2 separate regions of the Homo sapiens genome follow, and region 2 is linked to region 1. The links come from fine-mapping of genetic effects on gene expression. A gene starts in region 1. The other region holds a variant in brackets. All regions are shown on one strand. Distances are from middle to middle.

Region 1 (5,380 bases):
TGGAAAATCATTACATTCCTTATCCCTTTATCTCCACATTGAATTGATCTCTAAGCCTTAAGATCATATATGATCCCTCAACATTTTGTCCCTTCCTGCTGGTTCAGGTGTTCAGCATTTGCCCCTGTACTATCGATCATGTCACATGCATGCTTCAGCCTTCCAGTTCTTGTCCATTGCCTAGGATAAGATCTGAAGAACTTTGTATGGCCCAGGAGACTGACCTTTGCTTATCTCATTAAGTTTCCTACTGTTCCGTTTCTCCCATTCCCAGCCCTACCTTCCAGACATGTTAGACTATCCTGACATTTTCCCCAAATTGCCATGCTCCTCTTTCCACATATACATGTGCCTGGAGAACTATTCCCACTTACATGCCTTGAGAGCTAATATTTAGCTTTAAGACCCAGTTCCCTGGTGCTTATTGACACCACCCCTCCCTCACAGACTTACACATGTCTTCTGCACTCCACAGTGCCCCAGTGCTTCCATATATCTGGATATGTGTCCATTTCTACAATATGATAACAGGCAGCACATTTTATTGCAAGTCTTTGATTTTCCTGCCTCCTCTTGTGGTTTATTAACTCCTTCATGGTAGGGACTATATTTGACTTACATTTGCTTTCTTAGTCTTCTGCAAAATGCTTGACACCCAGAAGGTGTTGAGTAAATATTTGATGAATCAGGACAAGTGAACAAGGACACAACCTCCATGTGGGAACAGACTGTTGCATGACCTTTCCTCCTATACCCATGCACGTGACGGCGCTCCTTTAATGTGGAGTTGATTGGTTGATTAACCCATTAAACACTTATACAGCACCTGGTAGGTTACAAGCATTTTGAGCAGATATACAAAAAAGCCCATTTGTTTACAAGCTGTGTCTTTAAGAAAATTACTCTTCCAGTACAGAAAGCAGCCATATTCCATTTTGATGATTCATTCCTACTGATGAATGTAAAGTAGAAGGAAGAGTGGTTATAGCTGATGGCAGACACACCATAGTGAGGCTTTTGCTGTAACTCAGTGGCCTTTCATGTCCTGGGCCCTCTCCTCATGATGGGCCTGTCCTTATCTTCGTTTCAGCCTGGGAAGGCTGGTGTGCCTTTACTGGGCCTGACTAGGGCAGCCATAAGTAAGTGCTGCTGCAGACCAGAACATGGCCAGGACACAGGCAGGCACACAAGTCAGAGGAGTGTGATGTGTTGGGACAGACCAGGTAAGGATGATGCAGGGAAGGCGTGTTGGGAATCATGGAGCCCTCTAATCTTTGTCTCTCCCTAAGGCTCTAGCTCACACAGGGCTTCTGCTCCTCATCCCAAAGGAAGACAAGCTCCTTTTTATCTCTTCCCTTTCCAAAACCCACTCTCAAAAGAGAATCTAAACTGTATCCACTGTAAATGATAAAATATATAATAGCTTAAAGATTATTAATTTTTTGTCCAGTGGGTCTTCCTGTCTAAACAGCATAGAGAGATTTAGACTAATGTTCTATATAGCCAGTTAAATACCTGGGATTATGTTCTAGGAAAGAGATAAAAAACTAAGGCTAACTGAAGCTCCTAAAATTTTATCAGGAAGGTGGTTATCTTCTTTCTCCACCAAGTTGGACAACAGGGAGTGGAGGAGAAACAGTCAGGGAGGACAGAAGATCAGTGGCAGAGGACCAGGTAGAGCTTAGATTAATAGAACGTCTGGGGTCAGCCCTTAATTAAGGAGAATGAAGTCGTGCAGGAAGTGCTCAGGAGAAGAAATTACTTTGAGTGCTGTGTGACAGGACCTTGTATGAGGTAAATACTTGGGTGCAAAAAAGGACAAGGACAAGGAACGTGTCCTGGGTCTGTGCCTTCTGCATGAGAACACCCTTGCACGTCCCCTAACAGGAGGATCAGAGAGAAGGGGAAGGGAAGAGGGGAGAGGCAAAAAAAAAAAAGAAAGAAAGAAAGAAAAAAAGAGCGAGAAAGAAAGAGAGAGAGAGAGAGAAAGGAAGGAAGGAAGGAAGAAAGAGAGAGAGAGGGAGGGAGGAGGAAGGAAAAAGAGAGAGAGAAAGAAAGAGAGAAAAAGAGAAAGAGAGAAAGAAAAGGCTGGAGGCACTCACAGAAATCCTTCTGGCCCCCAGCGAAGGCTAAGGAGGGACTGGGCGGGCGTTGGGAGGAGCCTCGGAAGCAACCTCTGAGCAGCCGCCTCTGAGCACGATGGGAAAATCCTTCCTCCCTCGGACATGGCGCTCACCTGCCCGGCCGCAGCAGCCGGCTCCGGCGCCGCGGTTCGCGGGTCCGGGCGGAAGAGCAGCTCCAGCTTCAAACGTGGGGTGGAAGGAGGCGGCGGGGGCGACGGCGGCGGCGACGGCGGGGGCGCGGCCCGCGGGCCCGGGTGTTAGACCTGAGGGAGCCTGGAGATCCGGCCGGGGCGCGCAGGGTGCAGCGGGGCGCTCACCAGCCCCGGGGCGCAGCCGGCATGGTGTCCCAGGTGCTGCAGCTGCTCCGGCAGGGCGTGTGGGCCGCGCTCACCGGGGGCTGGTACCACGACCCGGAGCAGAGCAAGTTCACCAACAGCTGCCACCTCTACCTGTGGCTGTTCCTCCTGCTGCTGCCCCTGGCCCTGCACCTGGTGAGTGGGGAGGGTCCGGTCCCGGGGAGCTGTGGGTATGGAGGGAAGAAGGAGAAAGGAACCACAGACGTGCCATCAGCCTCACGGGCTTTCGGGTTCGTAGAGATTCTTAAGAGACGGAAAGGGAGGGGCTTCAGAAATTTGGGACAGAGAACATGCAGGGAAAGGGGACTGTGAGGATTCACTGGAAAAGAAAAGAAGTAGACAGGACTGCGGGGGCTCGGGGACTCATTAAGAATTGATGCCGGATGTTAGGATGAGTCACTCTGCTTGTGGCAGGGAGCGTGCAGCCTGTTTTGTAGGTGGGTAACTCTAGGCCTTAGAGCTGGGTAGCTTGGGATAATGTTTGGTGTGAAATGCTGTAGATTGTAGCCAAGAGGAAAAACGAAATGTAAAAAGCAGACTCATTTCAGTTATTGTCCCCTTTTTCCCCCCTCACCTTCTTTCTTGTTTTGCTTTGAGAAGGCAGTTCAGTTATCAGTTACTCACATTGTAATTTCTACACCACTATGTATAGAAATCTGTAGGAAGATATAATAATGGATAAATCTAATGTACTTTATGCTAAACAAAGTATTACAACATTTAGATGGGGCTTGACATTTTAGTGGGGTTATGGTAAGTGAGTGCTTGCTGAAGAACTACATAGATGGCCTTCTTAGGTAAATTATACGTAATTAAAACAATGGTTTACCTGCTTTGAAAAGCTGTACAGGTAAGGTGTTCCATGTCTTATTAAACTTTACGTGCCAAGAATCTAATTTTGGTATGTCGGTTGGAGGACTTTATTCCTAACACATTATTTGATCATTTTTTTTACAGCAAAAATCGTCAATGAGTTTGCATGACTGATGGATTCCGAGTTTGACATTTGTGATTGGGTTTCTCTTTACTCTTTTTCCGGCAGTGTATCCAAAGGGTCAGAACTCTGGGTGTGAAGTCATGATGCCTAGGTTAAATTTTGGGTCTACTGGTTACCAGTTCTGTGACCTTGGGGAGGTTATTTACCATATCTCATTTTTCATTTTCTTATCTGTAAAATGAGAAAAAGTAATAGTACCAGATTTACAGATTGTTTTAGGGATTAAATGAGATAGTACATATAAAGCCACAGGTCTGTCTTGACCTGAGATTGGACTCAGGCCTTGGGTTTACAATTCTGTTCTGCTACTTATTAGCTGTTTGGTCTGATACTGAACTTTTCTAAAACTTAGCATTCATATCATTAAAACGGATGTGATCATCACAATCACCACTTCACAGAAAAATTAACCAAAATTATATATAAAAAGCATTAAATACAGAAACTGCTTGGAAACCCTGCAATAAATGCAAGTTTATTTCTTCTTTCTGATTCTCCGCACCATTTTTCTTAACCCATTTTTCCTTAGCCTATGGGCCCCAGTGGTTTCTCTTTTCCTAGAGGGACAGCATAGCAAAGTCATGAGGAGCACAGCCCTCACCAGGGTGAAATCCTGGTTCTGCTGCTCACTAGACCTAATATGAGCTTGAGCAAGCTTCACCTTCCTTGTTTGTAAAGCAGGGATAATTACAGTACCTCCCTTATAGGGTGAATATGAGAACTGAGTGAATTAATAGATGAAAGTACTTCTTAGTACCTGTCACACAGAGAGTGCTCAGTAAGAGATAGCCCTTTTTAATCCTTCCCCATCTTCTAAAATCTCTCCATCCTTATGTTTTCTGATTTAGCTAGAATTAATTTCTCTTCTCCCTTGCCCTTATACCATTCTGTATTTACTATTAGTTTTACAGCATTCTGTAGTTAGACTATTAGCATTAATAGTACTTTTCGAATTCTGTCTGGTACTTAGTTGTTGGAACATGTATTTCACTTCTATGTCTAGATCATAAGCTTTTTTGAGGGCATGGATTTTTATGTTGTTTATTCATCTTGGTTTTTCCTTGTACATAGCAGAGTGCTCTGCATTTGGTAACACTGATCTCATATATAATTAACTTGTGTGTCTCTTTCTTTTCCAACTAGCATTAAATAGTCTACCTCACTATACTTTTTGAATATTTCCTAAGAATAAAAGCAATATATTTTCCACCTATAATTCCACTCCTCAGAAACCACCACATTCGCATTTAATGTTGTGTTCCTGCAGATGTTTTTTCCTATGCATATGGGCTCATTTTTATAAAACTCTACTTAAGATTTGATGTCTACGTATGGTCAGAACCCTTAATTTCTACCTAACTATGCTTTATTGAGTAGCTTGATTTAGATCTTGTGTTTGTGAGTAGGAAATTGTCCTTCATTAATTTGCTTTTTGATGATATTTAAATGTAATTTTCAGCTAAATCTCAAAATTTTAGAAAGTAAAGTCTGAGACCTTAAATAATTTTGCTTTTATATCAGACTTTAAAAAAAAACAGATATGCCCAAATTGTTATATCTCTATGCCAGCATGCCTTTAACTATTATAGAATAATTGTATGTGGGTACAGTTACTGTTATGCTACTTTTTAATATATAGCCTGCGTTATTAAAAACATGACAGGTTATTTTTTTCTTGCTTTGGTCTTCTGGTTTCTGAAAGTGCCCTTGAAATAAAAGGCCCTCTTCCCCAAATGGAGGCTTTGTTCTTCAGATCTTCGTGCTTAAATATATTCCTCTGCACTTCAGTGTTGCCTGTGATTGTTAATGTCTTTTTCAATTTGTTCATTTACAATCATTTGTTCCAAGAAGATACCTGACTGCTTACTGACAGCAGGGGCTTAGTCAAAGTTCTGTGAACTTTT
Region 2 (5,380 bases), 240 kb after region 1:
TCACTTTCATAGTTCTTACAAACTACAATAGTAGTTCAATTTCTAGTAATGACATGCTAGGTGTTTACAACCAATTTTCCCCAGTGAGGGCAGCTAAAGAAAACTGGGTAAAATACAAAGAAAGGGGCTAGGCGCAGTGGCTCATGCCTGTAATCCCAGCACTTTGGGAGGCCGAGGCAGGTGGATCACCTGAGGTCAGGAGTTTGAGACCAGCCTGGCCAACATGGTGAAACCCCATCTCTACTAAAAATACAAAAATTAGCTGGGCGTAGTGGTGCATGCCTGTGATCCCAGCTACTCGGGAGGCTGAGGCAGGGGAATCGCTTGAACCCAGGAGGCGGAGGTTGCAGTGAGCCAAGATCGCACCACTGCACTCCAGCCTGGGCGACAGAGTAAGACTCTGTCTCAAAAAAAACAAAAACAAATACAAAACAATAACAACAAAAATAAATATAAAGAAAAAAACCAACAAAACTTTCTTTAAACTCAAAGTTGTTGGTTGCTCAAAACCTTCAAAGTACTGAAAATTCAGATCAAAATCCAGTAGAAGGAAAGCACCCAGCACTCATAACCATTTTTATTCAAGACCATCTGCCAAACCTGAAAAAAGAAACAGCCAAACTGAGCTGTTTGTGGTCTTGGAGGGCAAATGTATGAAAAGTCAAAACCCAGGCCCAGTAAGGCTGGAGGTCACCTGAAGGCGCTGATCCGAGGCAGTGCTCACCCTGATGGGTGTACAGCAGTATGTCCTCAGGAAATGTCTCGTGCCAAATCATTCTGAGCTGCGTGGTGACAGCAGAGTGCCATTGACTTTGCAAGAGCTAATACGATTGTTAGTAGCAGCAGCAATTAAGGGCAGAAAAACAAACCTAGCTGTACCTTGTGCATATAATCAATTTTAAAGGAGACAGTACCCCTGTATTTAAACTCTGGCTGCCTTTTCATTGTCCAGATTTCTTTAAGGTTGGTCTGCCTATGAATAGAATTACAGTCTATTTTTAACTCTGTCTTGGATTTGCTATATGAACAGACCCCCACCAAACTTCTCACTCCGGCCAGCAGTATTTCCTCACCAAAAAATAAGACAACTTTTACCATAGACTGTGTGTACTGACAAAGGGGAATTTGAAGCATTATCAATATAGAAAATTACTTTTAAATTATTTAAGTTGTTCAGATGAAACTGAGAGAGAAGGTGCTTGACTTAGAGAGACTGGCCATGGGGTGGAAAGGCCAAGTTTGAAGGGAAGAAGCCAGCTCTGCTCTCTGCATTTTGTATTAACATAAAAGAGGGGTGCTTCTCAGTAAGTCCGCTTCTCTGGAGAGTCCTGTTATACGACTCTTGTTCTGTAGTGCTCAGGACAGCATTAGCCAGCAATGCACAGTGACTTTGTCAGGCAAGTGCTAGGAAGACCATGCATGCAGACGCATGCCTAATGTGTACCAGGATTGCATGTTCCCACTGAGATTGGGGAGTGAGCTATAAGCCCTGTTTCCTCTTTGAGCTACAGAGCTGATGTTCATTTGATTGGACAGTTAAGGCAGAAATCCAATTACTGAGCTAATTAGCACCTTTGAGGGGTAAGCACCAAATTTACAGGAGGAAAGCACTGGAGAAAACTCAAATTACCCAGTGTGGCTGACAGTCCACCCTCTTAGAGAATGTGTGGAGAGCCAGAGGTCCTGGGGGTACACAGGCAGCTTAACTTAGTTATTGCTCATCAGAATTTAGACTGTGTTCTATAGGCTTCTGAAAAGATAGCTTTCCAGTGAACATAGTTTTAGAAGGTGTTTTAGTTCCCTAAGGAGTTTAGTAAATGATTTTCTTTTGTCTTAATCCTCCTTTAAAAGTTGTTTATTCTGCTGCTTGAAAATTCCATTTGTGGTAGGTCTTAAGGTGAAATTAAAATTCCATTTAGGGACTAACTATGCAGACGTGGGACTTCAGCCTTCATTAAAAAGAATTTTGTTGGTTGCTGGATTTTCTGCTACCCTGAGATCTTTCATTTTTCAAAGCTGCTATGAGAGTATTTGTAAGGAAAACTAAAGCTGTAATAGAACAGCATACTTGGGTTCACAGCCTTTCTGAAATGTAACACAGTATTTCTTCTCTCCAATCCATCCGTAGCATCACAGAACTCAACAGGATCTTGCCTAGATGGTTCCCAAATGTCTAAGACATACATGAAAAGAAAGAATACTTTTTTTTTCTGAAGACAAGCCTTTTCATTTATTCAAATTATAGTTCCAACCAAATATCTTTTTATCTGTTTTTATTCCCAAAAGACAAGTTCACAAAAGAAGGCTGCATTCTTAGGTTTCTTCTTAAGCACCATTTCTGACAAGTGCTTTTCATTTATTAAATTATACAGAATATGTCAATGATCATGTTTAAACATAAGCCACATATGCAGCATTGACTGGCAGCTAGTCTTGTTTCTTCTTAGCAAATATTATAAGGACAAGAACTTCAGAAGTAGCCTTATCTTTGACCATTCAATAATTTATTCTGCAAATATTTATTGAGTGACTACTATGTGCCAGTTGTGAGCAACAAACTTACTCTCATGGTACTTAGGGACTGATGTAAGAGTCAGATATCATCAGATAATTACACA[AAG/G]AGATGTATGATGTGGTGTAAAGTAAAGGCTCCTAAGCCAGCCTCCCTAGGTCATATTCTGGCTGTGCCACCTGTTAGATCTGTGACCTTGAGCACTCTATTTAATTTCTCTGTGCCTCTGCCTCATCCGCCGTGAGAATGGGTATAATGAGTACCTACCTCAGAGGGTAGTTTTGAGGCAATAATAAGCCAATACATATAAAGTACTTAGAACAGGCACATGACACAAGCAAGTGCTACATAAATGTTAGCTGCCATTGTTATGATTGATGTTAGCCTTGACAGGTGCTCCAAAAGAGAGGTACAGGTACAACATGTGAAAGAGAACATGACAAAGGAATCTCAAGCAGCACAGGAGTCAAGGCAGCTTCCCTGAGAAGGTGATACTTGAGCTGAGACTTGAAGGATGAGAGGAGTCAATGAGGAAAAATGAGTGGGAATGGAAAGGGATCCCTAAGTAGAGGGAACATTTGCAAAGGATACTGGAGAGGAAGGAATGACAGGACTAAGAGGTCTGGGCATGCTGAAGGGGTGGAAAAGGAAAACCAACAGGCTTGGAGCAAAGAAAGCAAAGGGTGGAGTGATAGAAAAGGCAGGAGCTGGCCAGGCGCTGTGACTCACACCTGTAATCCCAGCACTTTGGGAGGCCAAGGCAGGTGGATCATGAGGTCGAGAGAGCGAGACCATCCTGGTCAACATGGTAAAACCCCGTCTCTACTAAGAATACAAAAATTAGCTGGGCATGTGGCGCATGTCTGTAATCCCAGCTACTGGGAAGGCTGAGGCAGGACAATCGCTTGAACCCAGGAGGCGGAGGTTGCCATGAGCCGAGATTGCACTGCTGCACTCCATCCTGGTGACAGAGCGAGACTCCATCTCAAAAAAAAAAAAAAAAAAAGAAAAGAAAAGAAAAAGAAAAAGCAGGAGCCAGATGTGTTCAAGACCAGGCTTTCTACAATTGTCAGTGGGACCTTCATTATGCCCAAATCCTTAAGTAAACCCTATGTGTGATGCTGATATATTTGTGGAAGCCCTTTCTTAATGGCGAATATATCAGATTTAACCATATGAAATTGCCATTTTGTAGGTGATAATAAACAGTTGACTATCGTCAATTTCATAGGCCTGATGTCAATTTCATATTTCATTCTTTAAAGACCGCCACTCATTGTTGGAAATAAAAGGACAAAGGTAGGCTGGCATAGCCTCTCCAAGAGAGCAGATCGCTGCACTTACAAAGGGTTTTGGGGATGTGTGGAGTTCAAGGACTGGTGAGGTTTTGGAGGCATACATGGGTTGATGGCATCTGTATAGGTGGTTACTTGAAAAGCCTGTTATTCATCAGTTGCCCCTCAAGTCTGCAGTGAGTCGGCTAACTCTCAGAAGCCAGGGGTTGTCATGGACTGGCTGCCTTACAAAAGCTGTGCACTGAGGGGTGTTTACATGATGGAATAGGTTCAAAGCTGGTTCTAGTGGCCACTTGTTACCATGGCTGCAGATGATCCGAGAGCTTTCATTCTCATGGTTCAACCTAAGAAAGGTCTATAAGAGTATACCCCACTCTTGAAAGCAGGTGGTGGAGACGTTGACTACTCACCACCATTTCCTGAAATCAATTTGAAGAGAAAGATACCTTTGTGGACACTGTTCTCAAGTTCTGAAAGTGGGTAGCATTACATTGGCAGTTTAAACACTTGCTTTTTTTTTTTTGAGTCTTGCTCTGTCACCCAGGTTGGAGTGCAGTGGTGCAATCTCGGCTCACTGCGACCTCGGCCTCCTGGATTCAAGTTCAGCCTCCCAAGTAGCTGAGATTATAGGAGTGTGCCACCACACATGGCTAATCTTTTTGTATTTTTAGTAGAGATGGAGTTTCACACTGTTTGCCAGACTGGTACCAAGCTCCTGACTTCAAATGATCTGCCTGCCTCAGCCTCCCTAAGTGTTGGGATTACAGGCATGAGCCACCGTGCTCAGCCTAAATACTTGCTTTGATTTTGCAGATCTGGTGCTCCAAATTGATTAAGACACAAGACCGTTCTCTCCAAATCAGAGAGCTACTCATCTCTCCCTTCCATGTGTTTCTTGTACTGCTCCCTCTATCTCTTATCATGAGACTCCTCTCTTCCTGCAGTGTGGTAAAACTACAGCAATCGTCTTAACCTGTGAGATCTGTCACCTTTGCATTTTCCACTCATGCAGCTGGTTCTATAAACCAACTCTTCTGCTTGGGGGGATCTAATCATGACCTTTTACCCTTTTGTGGCCTCTTCTAGTACAAGGCGAGTGGATAATTCCAACACAAGACTGGCAGTCCAAATTGAAAGAGATCCAGGTAAGAAGATCTCTTCTCTCTTTTTCAACTATTTATTGTTGTATGGATGGATTCTCAAAAGGAAGAATTAAATACTCACTCTGTACTCATTGTGGAGACAATGCACATCTTAGTTAATCTGCTGAATGTGGAATAAAACTGTGCAGGTAGAGTGATCAAGCAACCTGATTTGGTTTGACAATGCATTGCTCCGCTATTTAGAATTGATTAGGACCTTGCTCAGTATTGCATACCCCTGTTAATCAAGACATTTTAGTTCGTGTGCAGTAAACCTCAAACACAGACTATAAACCTTGAGATTCGTCTTTTAGGAAAAAAAAATTCTTTGGAAAAACATCAGCATGATAATATCCTTAAAGGTAAAGCATTCCATGATCCAGGATCTAGAAGGTTTCAGAAACTTTGGTCAACATTAAGCTATGAAAGGA

Evidence for each region. PIP is the estimated chance that this variant, and not a neighbour inherited with it, causes the effect.
Region 2: its variant is the best candidate, but not a certain one, in a credible set for the expression of PCNX2 in whole blood (TOPMed, PIP 0.64).

The regions. Positions count from the first base shown.
Region 1 is chr1:233,292,560-233,297,939 of GRCh38, reverse strand. It overlaps PCNX2 (pecanex 2), which reads left to right and starts at 2,215. Exons shown (of 34, transcript NM_014801.4): 1 at 2,215-2,614. The coding sequence starts at 2,462. RefSeq lists a silencer at 2,120-2,499 and an enhancer at 2,780-2,829.
Region 2 is chr1:233,056,804-233,062,183 of GRCh38, reverse strand. PCNX2 (pecanex 2) reads left to right here. Exons shown (of 34, transcript NM_014801.4): 24 at 4,894-4,952. Among named protein-coding and RNA genes, the nearest start is that of NTPCR, 110 kb to the right of the region's middle. The variant AAG/G (reference allele first, on the strand shown) is at 2,619.